Homo sapiens: one gene and its partners. The protein of the gene in region 3 interacts with the protein of the main gene of each other region in a pairwise test. Each region holds a gene or a part of one and is shown on either strand. Other genes may lie near its edges.

Evidence for each region. The genes of interacting proteins can lie anywhere in the genome.
Region 1: the proteins of SMAD9 (region 3) and PPARD interact in a two-hybrid assay, tested with the Homo sapiens proteins (one large-scale study listed by BioGRID and IntAct).
Region 2: the proteins of SMAD9 (region 3) and CAMSAP1 interact in a two-hybrid assay, tested with the Homo sapiens proteins (one large-scale study listed by BioGRID and IntAct).
Region 4: the proteins of SMAD9 (region 3) and CXXC5 interact in a two-hybrid assay, tested with the Homo sapiens proteins (one large-scale study listed by BioGRID and IntAct).

What each region holds. Positions count from the first base shown.
Region 1 is NC_000006.12:35,412,058-35,415,557, forward strand, and holds part of PPARD (peroxisome proliferator-activated receptor delta), read left to right. Parts: intron 1-3,500. UniProt on the Homo sapiens protein: Ligand-activated transcription factor key mediator of energy metabolism in adipose tissues. Receptor that binds peroxisome proliferators such as hypolipidemic drugs and fatty acids.
Region 2 is NC_000009.12:135,820,547-135,824,046, reverse strand, and holds part of CAMSAP1 (calmodulin-regulated spectrin-associated protein 1), read left to right. Parts: intron 1-12; coding exon 13-97; intron 98-786; coding exon 787-3,208; intron 3,209-3,500. UniProt on the Homo sapiens protein: Key microtubule-organizing protein that specifically binds the minus-end of non-centrosomal microtubules and regulates their dynamics and organization. Specifically recognizes growing microtubule minus-ends and stabilizes microtubules.
Region 3 is NC_000013.11:36,874,884-36,879,034, reverse strand, and holds part of SMAD9 (mothers against decapentaplegic homolog 9), read left to right. Parts: intron 1-4,151. UniProt on the Homo sapiens protein: Transcriptional modulator activated by BMP (bone morphogenetic proteins) type 1 receptor kinase. SMAD9 is a receptor-regulated SMAD (R-SMAD).
Region 4 is NC_000005.10:139,651,349-139,654,848, forward strand, and holds part of CXXC5 (CXXC-type zinc finger protein 5), read left to right. Parts: intron 1-3,500. UniProt on the Homo sapiens protein: May indirectly participate in activation of the NF-kappa-B and MAPK pathways. Acts as a mediator of BMP4-mediated modulation of canonical Wnt signaling activity in neural stem cells.

The DNA.
Region 1 (3,500 bases), on a different chromosome or scaffold from region 3:
AGCTGGGATTATAGGCGTGCACCACCACGCCCGGCTAATTTTTGTATTTTTTTAGTAAAGATGGGGTTTCACCATGTTGGCCAGGCTGGTCTCGAACCGCTGGGCTCAAGCAATCCACCCACCTCAGCCTCCCAAAGTGCTGGGATTACAAGCAGGAGCCACCGCGCCTGGCCTGATCCCTCTGCTTCTTGCTTTCTCCCACCACTTCTCTCCTTACCCAAGTGCTGCAGGCCTGCACATGCAGCTCATCCTCGCTCCTCCCCTTAGAGGGAACTCAGGGTCATAAGGATATACTGCTGGGAGTAGACACCCTGCACTCGCTGCTGCTTTCAGCTGCAGGAGATCCTAGCCACAGGCGGTGACTCAGGCAGAGGAGCAAGCCCACCCCGCAGAAATGGGCTCTGGACCCCTGTGACTGCATGGAGCAGGAGGAGGCAGTTAGTGTCCAAGCTAAGGCAGGGTGAAGGCTGTGGAGGTAGCGCAGGCTCCTGTTTGGGTCTGCAGCTAAGATGGGTCTGAATCCTGGAGCCACACCACCTTGAACCTGCAAAGCAAGTCCCAGAATTTTGCAGAAGTTCTTCCTCTTCAGTGTATAGAGTTGGGTGGAGGGAGTATAGAGCCATCATTCAGTCCTTCTCATCTCACCCAGGATCACCTGGGAGTGACCAAAGTAGGCCAAATGTGATTCTAGGGCCAAAGTGAAGGTGTCCGCCATTCCCCGAGTAAGCAACTTCCTGTCTATTGGCTGGTAACTGGGATGGCTTTGGAGACACAGCCTGTCTCAGAAGAGAGGAACAGCTAACCAGGAGTGATAATTCACTCAGTGCCAGTAGCACATACTGTTCTAAATCTGAAGAAGGTAGGGAGGGTTAGAAAGCAAAGGGAAGACAGTGGGGACTAAGAATGAGTGTGGGATGTCATGAGGATTCAGGGGAGAATGCAAGGAGAAGAGACGGCCACAGGGTTTGTGGCTATGCCGCCTGCCGTGGCCCACCTCATCCCCACATCTGAGCCCAGGCAGATGGAAGTCCCCTGCAGAGCAGTGTTCTGTCCTGGAGTTTCCTCCACACCCCTTCTTGGGACCAGGGCTGTTTCCCAAATAGCATCACTGTTCCCGTGCAGGCCAGGTGAGGTGCCTGGGAGCAGGGGTAGGGTGAGGCAGGCATGGCGGTGACCTCTCAGGCAGCTTCGTTGTGGGATTTAGGGCACAGCGGGAAACGTCCAGGGCAGAGGTTGCCTCACCAGTCACATGGTACTATGTAGGCGGTGGTGTTTAATAGATTCTGTTTATCAATAAGTGGATGAAGTGGAGATAGACTTCCTTGTTCAGTCATTGAAACAGGAGAGAGGGTTACTTGACATAATCACTTTGTGTTAAAGCTGTAGTGTATGAAAAGTTCCCAAAAATTCTACAAGACAAGCAACCTAGCAGGAAAATCAGAACAGGTAACAGTAAGACAAATACGAATGGCCTGAAATCCCGACAGGTTTTTCAGTCTAACCAACTCAAAGAAAGCACCTTAAGTTGCAATGCCATTTCACCTGTCAGATGGGTGGGGAGGACTTGGTCCTCCCACCACCAGGGGTGAAAGGGTAGTGTGGGCCAACACTTCTTAATGTGTGATTCTTTTTTTTTTTTTTTGAGACAGAGCCTGGCTCTGTCGCTCAGGCTGGAGTGCAGTGGCACACGATCTCAACTCACTGAAACCTCTGCCTCCCGGGCTCAAGCGATTCTCCTGCCTCAGCCTCCCAAGTAGCTGGAATTACAGGCGTGCACCACCGTGCCTGGCTAATTTTTGTATTTTTAGTAGAGATGGGGTTCCACTGTGTTGGCCAGGCTAGTCACGAACTCCTCAGGTGATCCTCCCGCCTCGGCCTCCCAAAGTGTTGGGATTTCAGGTGTGAGCCACCACACCTGGCCAAGTGTGCATTTCTTTTACCCTGCATTCCCACTTCTAGGAACGTGTCCTGTGTAAGTACTTGCTCAGCATGCTCAGAGATTCCCATGCCAGCTTATTTACTGCAGGACTGCTCATAAGAGCAAAAATAGGAACGTGCCCATCTGTGGGGAACTGGTTATGTAAACTGTGGTAGAGCCATATGGTGGAATACTCTGGAGTCATTGAAAAGGATAAGGCTGGTTTATATATATATTAAATAAGTTCCTGACAAGTTGGGGATCCCATTGTTTAAAATCCTTATGTTTCATAGAAGGCACCGGAAGAGTCTATACCGAAGGACTCAGGGGCTAACTCTGAGGAGCAGGATCATGGTTAAGGAGGCTGTGTCATAAGATCCTGCATACCCTTCTGTGTTTTTCTCAACAAGTCTGCACTACTTCCATAATTTGAAAGGCAACTGTACTTTTTTTAAGGGTAAAATTAACTGTTTAAAAGGGGGGTGAGGATCTGGCAGGTGAGGGGCCCTGGAGACAGAGCCTGATCATGTGTCCAGAGCAGAAGGGCTTGGAGATCACAGAGACCAGGGCAGGCATCCCAGGTCTGTCACTGTGAGCTGTAGCCCTCGCCAGTGCCATCACTTCTCCAAGTCTCATTCTCTTCACCTTTATAGGCTGTGTCCTACCCAGCCTGAGGGCCAGCCAGGTGAGAGTCAGTGGGGGTATGTGACACATCGCAGGTCTCAGCACCTGCTAGTTCTCTGCCCCATCCCCATGAGTTATTACTTTGGCCTCGGGAGTCCCCTGAGGGACCCATAAGGACAGCGCACAGCTTTGAGCCCTGAAACAGCAGGAAGGCTCCACAGTCACCCCTGACCACCCTCCTCAGCAGTTCAGCACTGACTCTCAGTGCAGATATTGAGCTCAACACCTGCCATGCACCTTCTCACCCTCCCCCCAGCCAGGCAGGACAGACCTTCCCATCAACAAGGAAACTGAGGTTACCAGAAACCCACTTGCCAGGGTCCCCTGGGCGTGTAGGAGTAGAGACAGCTAGAGCCAGGATTCACCTCCCATTCCCATTCTCATCCCTCCTGCTTCAGTGACATCCATCCCAATCACCCTTGAGAAAGAGGAAGATAAAGTGTCCTTCCTCCTGGCCTCAGCACCTCCTCACTTGGCAAGCACTTGGTGGGCATCAGGCTGGGCCCAGCACTGTGCCCAGGGCTGGCCATACAGTGGTGGACAAGGCTGAGTGCCTGTCCCAAGGAGCCCACAGTTCAGGCAAACAGGACAGCAGAAGTAAAGAGGCTGCTCAGTAACCCAGCCTCAAATCCCTGCAGAATTTGGCCTGACTTCAGAAGCTGCTGGGTGCTTGTTTGCCTGTGAGCTCTGCCAGCAAAGTAAATAGACCAATCGGGCGCCTCCTGGCTGTCTTCACAGCCATGACAACGGCATTCTCCCAGCATTGGAGGCTAGATATGCAGGAGAGCTCTCAGCCACAAATGATGTGAATAAGGTCAATAGTGTCTATTTGCTGAACTTGTCATCAAAGATGGTGAAACTGATACTTTACTCTCTGGGTGAGAGGGCTAGTGTTTAC
Region 2 (3,500 bases), on a different chromosome or scaffold from region 3:
TCTGTACTGCAGATCAGCGACATCGATCGAATTCTTTGACCCGAGTTGATGGTCAGCCTCGAGGAGCAGCAATAGCCTGGCCAGAAAAAAAAACCAGGTGAGTCTGTGTTTCAGCAGTGTTTCTGTTTGGAATGTTTTTTATACTAAACAGCAGTTCTTAAGATGTCACCCCAACCCCCTGAGGATCACCGAGACCCTTTTATAGGGAGTGCCTGAAATCAGAATTATTTTTATAACAACACTAGGAAGTTACTGCCTCTCTGCAGCCTCACTCTTGCGAGTGTGCCGTGGGATTTTTCAGAGGCTGCATACCATGTGGTGTGGCAGCAGGTGGAGTCAGGTATGAGGGTCCAGCCAGATCCCAGAACTATACAGGTGTCAAATAGTGCCTGCCCTTAACACTAGGAACTTCTTCCGTTCTGGCGAATATAGTCATTTGTCATGGAGTGGGCTAATTACTGTAATTTTAATCAGTGTTTAGAAAATGTCTGAGCTTTAATTTGTAGGATGATAAATAGAGATTAATACTGATAAATAGAAACAAAAGCTCTTTGAGGTCCTCAGTAATTTTGAAGGGTATCAAGAGGTCCTGGGACTAGAGTGTTTGAGAATCACAAAGCTGAAATTATCTCTGATTTTCTTCTGCTCTGTGGAAGAGTGAGTTTAAATCTCCTGCATATGAGAGGCGTATTCTCTTTGTGTGGCCGGCATTCTCACCCCCTGGTCCATGTTGGGGGTCTTTGGTGTATACCGCAGCGCACCCAGTGGGCCTTCCCTGTGTTTCAGGCCTGCGTCCCAGCCAACACCTTTTGCTCTACATCACGCTGCGAGTTGTGAAGTGGATCCCAGCTCTGGCGACAGCATCAGCTTGGCCCGCTCCATCAGCAAAGACAGTTTGGCATCCAACATTGTTAATCTGACCCCACAGAACCAGCCACACCCCACGGCCACGAAGAGCCACGGGAAGAGCCTCCTGAGCAATGTCAGTATTGAGGATGAGGAAGAGGAGCTTGTGGCTATTGTTAGAGCAGACGTGGTTCCCCAGCAGGCTGACCCGGAGTTCCCCAGGGCCTCACCCCGGGCCTTAGGCCTTACAGCAAATGCCCGGTCTCCCCAAGGACAGCTGGACACCTCGGAAAGTAAGCCTGACAGTTTTTTCTTGGAGCCTTTGATGCCAGCAGTTCTTAAGCCAGCGAAAGAGAAGCAGGTGATCACCAAGGAGGATGAACGGGGGGAAGGGAGACCGAGGAGCATCGTGTCTAGGAGGCCCAGCGAGGGCCCCCAGCCTTTGGTACGAAGGAAAATGACTGGCAGTCGCGACTTGAATAGGACTTTTACCCCGATTCCATGCTCAGAATTCCCCATGGGCATCGACCCCACCGAGACAGGACCACTGTCAGTGGAAACCGCAGGAGAGGTCTGTGGTGGGCCTCTGGCCCTTGGCGGATTCGATCCGTTCCCCCAGGGACCATCCACGGATGGCTTCTTCCTTCATGTAGGCAGGGCCGATGAAGACACCGAGGGAAGGTTATATGTTAGTTGTTCAAAAAGCCCCAACTCCCACGATTCAGAGCCGTGGACTCTCCTCAGGCAGGATTCTGACTCGGATGTGGTGGACATAGAGGAAGCCGAGCACGATTTCATGGGTGAGGCCCATCCTGTGGTTTTCAGCAGATACATTGGGGAGGAAGAGTCGGCCAAACTGCAGGAGGACATGAAGGTGAAGGAACATGAAGACAAAGATGACGCCAGCGGCCGCTCGAGCCCCTGCCTGAGCACAGCCTCTCAGATGAGCAGTGTCTCCATGGCGAGTGGGAGCGTGAAGATGACCAGCTTTGCGGAGAGGAAGCTCCAGAGACTCAACAGCTGTGAGACCAAGTCCAGCACCAGCAGCTCCCAGAAGACCACGCCAGATGCGTCTGAGAGCTGCCCAGCCCCTCTGACGACGTGGAGGCAGAAGAGGGAGCAGAGTCCGAGCCAGCATGGCAAGGATCCCGCCAGCCTCCTGGCATCTGAGCTGGTACAGCTGCACATGCAGCTGGAGGAGAAGCGCAGGGCCATCGAGGCCCAGAAGAAGAAGATGGAGGCGCTGTCGGCAAGGCAGCGCCTGAAGCTCGGCAAGGCTGCATTCCTGCATGTGGTGAAGAAGGGCAAGGCCGAGGCTGCCCCACCCCTCAGGCCGGAGCACTTTGCAAAGGAGTACTCTCAGCACAACGGGGAGGACTGTGGGGACGCTGTTTCCAAAACCGAAGACTTTCTCGTGAAGGAGGAGCAGAGAGAGGAGCTCCTTCACGAGCCACAGGATGTGGACAAAGAGAGCCTGGCCTTTGCTCAGCAACATAAAGCAAAAGACCCTGTGGCTCTGCACGAGCTGGAGAGAAATAAGGTGATCTCCGCTGCCCTCCTGGAGGACACTGTTGGGGAGGTTGTCGACGTGAATGAATGTGACCTTTCCATCGAGAAGCTTAACGAAACCATCAGTACGCTGCAGCAGGCCATCCTGAAAATCTCTCAGCAGCAAGAGCAGCTTCTGATGAAGTCCCCCACAGTCCCAGTGCCAGGCTCTAAGAATAACTCGCAGGACCACAAAGTGAAGGCACCAGTCCACTTCGTGGAGCCACTCTCTCCCACGGGCGTGGCTGGCCACCGCAAAGCCCCCCGGCTGGGTCAAGGCCGGAATTCCCGTTCCGGAAGGCCGGCGGAGCTGAAGGTCCCAAAAGACAGGCCACAGGGCTCCTCCCGAAGTAAAACCCCAACGCCCAGTGTAGAGACGCTCCCGCACTTGAGACCCTTCCCTGCCAGCAGCCACCCTCGGACGCCCACGGACCCTGGCCTGGACAGTGCCCTGGAGCCCAGTGGTGACCCACATGGGAAGTGTCTCTTCGACAGTTACAGGCTCCATGATGAAAGCAATCAGCGGACACTTACTCTGTCCTCTTCCAAAGATGCCAACATTCTTTCGGAGCAGATGAGCCTCAAAGAAGTTCTGGATGCGAGTGTGAAGGAGGTGGGGTCCAGCTCCTCAGATGTCTCGGGAAAAGAGAGCGTCCCCGTGGAGGAGCCTCTGAGGAGCAGGGCCAGCCTCATTGAAGTGGACCTCTCCGACCTGAAGGCCCCCGACGAGGATGGGGAGCTGGTAAGCCTCGATGGCTCGGCGGACCTTGTCAGCGAAGGCGACCAGAAGCCGGGGGTCGGCTTCTTCTTCAAGGTAAGGGATTGGTAGCATCTGTTTCAGGCACTCGTGATGTGTTGCCACCCCACGTGATAGTGAGTTAGAGAACACAGATCTGCACCAGGCTGGCCAGCCGCTCCTGTAAGAGGCCAGGGGATGTGTGTGTTTAGCTTTGTGGGCCACAGAGTCTCTGTCCCGAGGACTCCACTTGGCCAGAAGCAGTCCCGGGCAATACGCATGCAAGTGAGCGTGGTGTGGCTGAGACGACTTTGTTATGAGCCCTGAAACTGGAATTTCATGTGATTTTCAACATAGTTTTTTTTTTTTT
Region 3 (4,151 bases):
CAATCCAAAGAGAATCGCAGTAAAACCCTGTTATAGCCAGTGTGAAGGAATGAAGATAAACTAGTCAGGAAAATCTAGAAAGAAGATATTTTCATTTGATTTCATTATGCTGGTAAGCTTTGTGTGATTTTGAAAATGAGGCAGATGGCTAATCGGAGAAAACTGCCATAAAAGTTTTATTTTGAGGTATCTGGGACAAGTCAACATAATCTTTTACCAGTTCTTGGGGTCCTGAAAGGTTTTAAAATGGCCTTGATAATGATGAGCTGTAAAAATTAAACATCCTCCTCCCCCCGCCCCAAACAACTGAACTGAACTGTACTAAACTGAACTAAGGCAGGGTTTTTGGCTGCTACTTTGTTCAAGTTCAGGTAAGTAGAAGATATCTCATGTCTAGGTCTGAAAACAGCCAATGAAAGAGTTGCTGGAAATCATTCCAGGCAGTTATTTTTAAAAATGGTTTTAAGTACAGACAGGTATCACTTAATGATGGAAATACATTCTGAGAAATGCATCAGTAAGTAATTTCTTCCTTGTGTGAACACCCTGGAGTGTACTTACACAAACCATGAGCCTGCTACACCGTTAGGCTATATGGTGTAGCCTATTGCTCCTAGGCTACTAACCTGCACAGCATGCTACTGTACTAAATACTGTAGGCAATCCTAACCACAATGGTATTGAATGTATATGAACAGATCTAAACATAGAAGAGGTACAGCAAAAGTACAGTATCATAATCTTGGGGGACCACTGTCTTATATTGGTCCCTCAAGCAAAACATGATTACACAGTGCATGATTGTATAGGAAAGTATCTTTCTAAAACCCTTCACACCCCTGTGTGTGTGTGTGTGTGTATGTATATTATATATATGTGTGTAAGAAATATGTATATATTTCCTCCTCCTCTTGGAGAAGCCTGGTGTTTGTCTTTGTTCCTTCACACTGGCTATAACAGGGTTTCACTGTGATTCTCTTAGATTGAGTGTTTCTGTGGCATTTCACACAAGAACACAGTTTTAGGAGAGCTTTCTCTCTTTGGCCATCTGCCTCATCCCAGGAAACCAAAGCGCTGGCACATTAGCTCAGGGAAATTGCCCATGTCCAGTGAAGAGATGGTCCTGTCTACGTAGGCAGGTTCACTTAACCTTAAAACAGTATCCAATAAGTGATTTATGCCCAGCCTACCTCAGTCTTAGCTAAGTGATCCTTCAAGCTCCCAGAACTTAACATCTACCTGTGTGTGGATGCCTCCCACAGCCCATTCAGGGACTGAGGCCCTGGCTGAGAAGGTATTAGAAGGTTCCACATGCTTGGCAAATCTGATGCGTTTCCCCTAAATCCTGGAGCGAGTTGCTTTCCACCCTTCTTCCCTGGTTCATTTTGACTCTTTTCGCTTACTTAAAAAAAAAAGTCAATAATGTCTAAGCTTATAACAAAAATGACTGGATTCCATTTTGTGTTTCAAAGATTTGAATTACATTAAGCATCCAAAATATATCCAAATGGAAAAATGTTCATTAATAAATCATTTCTGTCTTCCTGAATAATGTAGTTGTAAAATTTAACAACTTGTAAGAAATATCTTGTAAAATGTACCTGGTTTTCCTTTTGAATATTCAAAAGCCTAATTTTAAAGAACTATTTGACATTTTAGTTTTTCATGTCTTTTGTTTTTTTGTCTTGCTCTGTTGGCAGGCCGGTGTGCAGTGGCGCAGTCTCTGCTCACTGCAACCGTCACCTCCCCAGTTCAAGCGATTCTCCTGCCTCAGCCTCCTGAGTAGCTGGGACTACAGGCACGTGCCACCATGCCCAGCTACTTTTTGTATTTTTAGTAGAGACGGGGTTTCACCATGTTGGCCAGGATGGTCTCGATCTCTTGACCTCATGATCCACCTGCCTCGTCCTCCCAAAGTGCTGGGATTACAGGCATGAGCCACCATACCTGGCCTTTAGTTTTTCATGTTCTGTAAGATTCTTTTAGGAATGATAGTGTGAGTGTTTTACATATGGTAAATATATTTCATTTTATCATAATTTAGGTGTGAATTTCCAGAAGGAAAGATGGGTAACGATTATATTAATTTAAGGTAATATTTAAGTTACAGAGGTTTTTCTTACTTGTGTTTTTTTAATAGAAAAAGTAGATTTTATATCTAGTTAGCTATCCATATTTAAAGTAAATATTTTAGGAATAATAAAAATGTTAATGTTAAACAAGTTTGCTGAGTTCCTATTTATCATAAAGCTTAAGTTTTGCCTTTGAAATCTCATTTTTTAGCCATCCATTTTAGATACATTGAAGGCTGCATTCCCATTTTCTTTTCATTCACACATCCACTTCAATAATTGACTTCAGTGCTTTCCAAGTTATGTGTGGTGAGGGATCAGTTTTTATTTTTTTAATTTCCAGTCCTTCAAACGAACACTTTTATAGTACAGACAAATTACTAGGCAAATGAAATTTTAAAAAGACTTAGAAAATATAAGCCCAATTTTAAAAATTATTTAAACAAGTGTAAACTAGAAACTCTGTCAAATTGCTGTGAAAAGTTTCTAAGTACTAATTTCTTCACAGACTCGTACCCAACAGTTGGTGAAGGGTCCCCAGTCCTCAGACACACTTTACCTGGCACAGTTCTGGTGGAAGCCATGCAAGACTGTTGTTGTGGTACATGATGATTTTACTCCATTTGGCTGGAGGTTATTTCAGGAGTGTAATTTCTTTTTTATATAAAATATTCATATTATATCAAAACCACATGACTTTTTTTAAAAAGACAGAAGTGTTTTTTTTCCAGCTCTGCTTTGCATGCCCATGTGCCCTGTAACTCCTTCCGCTGTCTCCCCCCGTGTGACACTGAGATGTAAAGATAGCATGGTGTTTAAAAGTGGCATAAGATAGGCATGAGTGTCTGTAAGCGCACTGTCATATTTACAAGCAGCAGTTGAGATGTGGAAGTGGAATTAAGTAATTAGGGATAGCTGTGTTGTGAGTGAAAGTATTTAAAAATATGATCAGTGCACATTTAAGGCAACGGAGCCAGTCAGGTCAAATAACAACTAGGATGAAACTATCAGTTTTCTTTGCAAACATCCACTGGCTTTGATTTTACCCAGATGGTAAAAATATATTATCAAGATAGTTGTTATGATAAAGGGAAATGTATCCTTTCTTTTCTCTTGGTGCCTCAGATCTACAGGCCATGAAGAAATAGAAGTCTCTACATTCAGATGGATAGGAGGCATTATATTTTTATCAGTGTTAGGAATATACCGTAGATATTTTACATTAAAACTGAAGTCACAGAGATGATTCAAATTCTTCTTCATAAAGAAGTGAGTGTTTACTTGAACATCGTTAACATTTTGATGAAGGGTCATTGACAAAGAAGCCATACACATTCGCTGTGTCAACTCCTCACTTCAGACTATTCATGAGGCACATAATCTTTTTTTTTCCTGCATAGTTGTGGAATATGAATACATTAAGGGGAATTTAATGGTTTATGATCCATGTCACTGTTTGATGGTGATGTTGAATGTTTGTTCTCTGGTGTCATAAGGCAGCATACGTATACAATAGCTTAGAAAAGGGGAAGAAATTATTTGTTTCTCTGCCACCCTCACCTGTAGCAGTTTTAGTTTAAAACCTTTTATTTACCCTTCTTAGTTTATTTTCTGTCCATATAACTGAAAATTATTGTTTGTTAAGAAAGAGATAGATGTATGGTGTCAAAGGCAGATGGCAGACTTCGGGGTTAATGTCATTGTTATTGTAATTGTCTGTTTATTCCAAAACATTTACCTTTTTTTAAGACTTTATTTTTTAGAGCAGTTTTAGAACATTTACTTTTTATGAGTTTTTATTAATACTTGCCTGTGGTTGACAAATCAGTGGTGTGATTAGAACCAAGATCTGTCCTATTTATACCCGGAGACAAACTCTTCTAAATAATTCTTGCTTAGTTCTTTCATATTTCTCTCTATTATTACTAAGAATTATGACAGTAACTCTAGATAATATATAATATGCTTACATATCTATTTCCAAATTTATCACCTTTTAGATAATGTCATTGACTCTCTACCATAAAAGATGAGGATTTCACTCACATACATACATACATACATATACATATATATATA
Region 4 (3,500 bases), on a different chromosome or scaffold from region 3:
TGAGGCCTGGAATGTCCACCCAGCTGGGCTAGGCTGGGCTGGGCTGGGCTGGGGTGGGTGGGGGAAGGGGAGGGGAGGATTCTGCATCCAGGGCACCGGCCAGCACAGGCCCATGTTCCATGGGTTCCCACTGTGACCCTCAACTCTTGCTGCCCCTTTCCTGCTCTGCCTGCCTCCTACTCATTTGGCACATGTGAAACTGAGACCCATAGGAGTGTGGGGGCAGGCTTGTATCTGGGTGAAGAAACAAGTCCAGGGGAATGAAATACCCTGCCTTCTTCAGGACTGACTGCACCTTGTTGTTTATGGGAGGATGGAGTGGAGGGAGTCTTGCTAGGAGGGAGAGAGGGATGTGGGCTGGGCTGACTTTCCAGGTTGCAGGATAGGGTGGAGGAATGAGGGAATACGGGTGAGCCAGACCCAAGCCTGGGTTCCTAGAGCCCCTGTCTGGTGGCTTGATCATTTAGTCCGAATTAACAAGCATGATGCTCTGGGGCATGCCCTAATTGAACAAGAATGGGGGGGTTCACACATTGTTATTACGTTACTATTGCCCACTCTTTATATGTTATTCATTTGTTGGCCCAATATGTTTGTATTGAGCACCTACTGTGTATCAAACCCCACCCTTCTGGTGGTACACAAATGAATCACTGCTCCAGCTCTGGAGGCAGGCCCAGGATAGAAGCTCCGCCCCGTTTCCCCGCCCCCTGGGGCCCTGATTGGGGCTTTCCCTCTTTTCTTTTTTCTGGGGCTCTCCCTCTCTTACCCCCACCACCTGGTCCCATCCTAGCCGCCGGCGCGCGCGCGCGCGCGCGCGCGCGTGTGTGTGTGTGTGTGTGTGTGTGGCTGTGTATGTGTGTGTGAAGTGTCCTTGATTAAGTGTATTAATAGTTAAACTCTCACTCATAGCTGGAACTCACCAGACCACAAAAAGCCTCCCCCGTTACTCACGCGCTACTGCCCAACAAGAATATCCCACTAAAGTTTTTTTCTGCTTTCTCTTACTTCCCCCTCACCTCCCCCCAACGCTGAGCCCACCCTTCCTGGATTCGAGCAATGAGAAAGGACTGCCCCCTAAAGACCCAGGAATCTCCAACCCTCCACCTGCCCCCTAAAGCCAGAGGCAGTGTCAGCTGACAGAGATGAGGCTGTGTGGGCACTAGTCTGTTGTTCTGGGATGTGGGAATCTGGGTGATGTGTGCTTATGACTCAGGACATGTGTGTCTCTAAGTAGTGTATCTATATCTGTGAATCTCTGTGTTGAATGTCTGTCTCAGGGTGTGGGAGTCTGAACATACATGGATTTATGAATCAGGGCATGTATATTTGTCCTGATCTAGAAGTGTGTGGATCTGTAGTGTATGTGTACATGTGTGTTTGTGAATCTGAGATTGTATTTCTGAAGATTGGCTATGTCCCTGTGAATCTGGGAATGAATATATTCTGTGAGCTGTGTGTGCTTGGAATTTTGGAGAGTTTGGATTTGTGATTTGTGTGTATCTGTGTGCTTTGTATATGCTTATAAATCTGGGGGATCTGACTCTGAGTAGAGTGTGTCTGAATTGTGAATGTGGGAGTGGGCCTGTCTGTGCTGTATGGACAGTGGTTTCTCTCTGTCTGTGGTGGCGGCTGGCTATGTTTTCCTTTCTCTTTCTGTATCTCCGTCTTACTGAATCTCCCCCTCTGGTTGTTTGAGGCCCTGAATGTGTGTGTAGCATGGAGTGTGTGTGTGTAGAACTGAACCTCTCACACCCAGTCCTTCCCCCTGCAACCCCTACACCCCTTCCCTCCCCAGCAGTAACTGGGCAGCCTCCCCGTCTGCCTGCCTGCTGGGAGTTTTGGAAGCCGCAGAGGGAGACAGGCTGGGGCTGGGGTGACAGCGTGTATCCACGGCAATGGTAGCATGTGATTACGGGAATAAAAGGATTTTAAGGTCATGGGTGGGTTTTCTGGAGGGAGGGGGTTGTGCCCCCACAACCCACCATTTGGTGGAGCCAGTGGCAGCAAAGGGCCAGCCTGTGTGTCTCCATGCTGGGAAGCCTGCCCCTATGCAGGTGAATGTGGATATGTGGGGCTTACCTGGGAGTGTGAGCACATGCTTGCACATGTATGAACGGAGCCTGTGAGAGCATGTGTGTCTGGCTGCCAGATCCCCAGATGAGAGTCCATAGGCTTGTTCCCTGGGGGAGGATTCCCAGGAAAACTTCTTGCTTCTGGGTATTACATGGAGCTGGAACCCCACAGTCCTCTGTATGTTGAGAAGCAGTCTGGTCCCAACCTTTCCCTGTACCCATACTCCCAACCCCAAGTCTAGTGTCTCTGGCCAGAGACTGACTGGGCCAAGTCACCTGGGCCAGGCCACATCTTGGGGTGTCAGTGCCCTGGCCCCGCTCCAGCCCCTGTAATTGCATTCTGCCGCCTAATCCCCCGCCAGCTCAATTAGATCGCAAATTCTTCTTCATTTCCTGCCTCTGATGCTGGCCTCCCTCTGGGCTCACAGGGCCTAGGAGGGAGGGAGGGGATCCTGCCCCGCCTTCCACAGCACTAGGGGCTCTAGAGAGGTGATTAGTTCCAGGCACACTGGCCCCAGAGCACAGGTTAGAACCCTGGGGACCAACAAGACAGGGCTCCACTGGCCCTTTTTGGGTCAGCCTCAGTATCCTCACACTAGGGCAGGGCTGGTGTTACCTGGTATGGGGGCTCTGGGTAGACCAAGCAGATCACTCTAGCCAGGACCCTAGCTTGTACCCTCACCTGGGGCTCCTACAGGCTCTGCCCCTCTCCCATCCTCAAAGCAGTTGCCATCTCCCCAACCCCCCACGGCAGTTGTGACCTTGTTTTTGACCTTTTCTGGGTGTCCCTTGTCAGAGCCAATTGAACCACTGAGCTCCACTGCTACCGGCTCCTCCTAACCTCCACCCAGACAAGTGTGTATGAGCAGTGGCTCTAGAGTCCATCAGATCTGACTCCAAATCCTGGACATGTCACTGCCTAGCTGGATGTGTGACATTTGGGCCAGTTGTGTTATCTCTACAAACCTCAGTTTCCTAATCTCTGAAATTGGACGGTAAGAGAATGCCTGCCTCACAAGGTCATTTTCAGATGGACACAGATGGTTGCATAGTGCCTGGCAGGGAGAGGTGCTCACCTACAATCTGTATTCAGTAAACACTGGCTTTTATAGAGACAAGGAATGCATGTCCCCCGTGAATCCTAAGAAAATAACATGTGGCTCACACCTCGCACTTCTGTCTCCATTCAGCTGATTACCAGGTGTGTGACCGTGGGTGCATCACTTTGTCTGACTTTCTCTTCCTCATCTGTAAAATGGGACTGATAATAGGACAGACCCCATGGGGCACATGGTAGCCTTCTCTGAGATGATGTGTGCAGATGCTTGGCCTCAGTATGTTTTCAAGGTGTTACTTGCCTTCTTTCTTTCCTCACCCCAAGCCTAGGGTGGGGTAGAGCTGGTGAAGACACAGGCTCAGGGACAA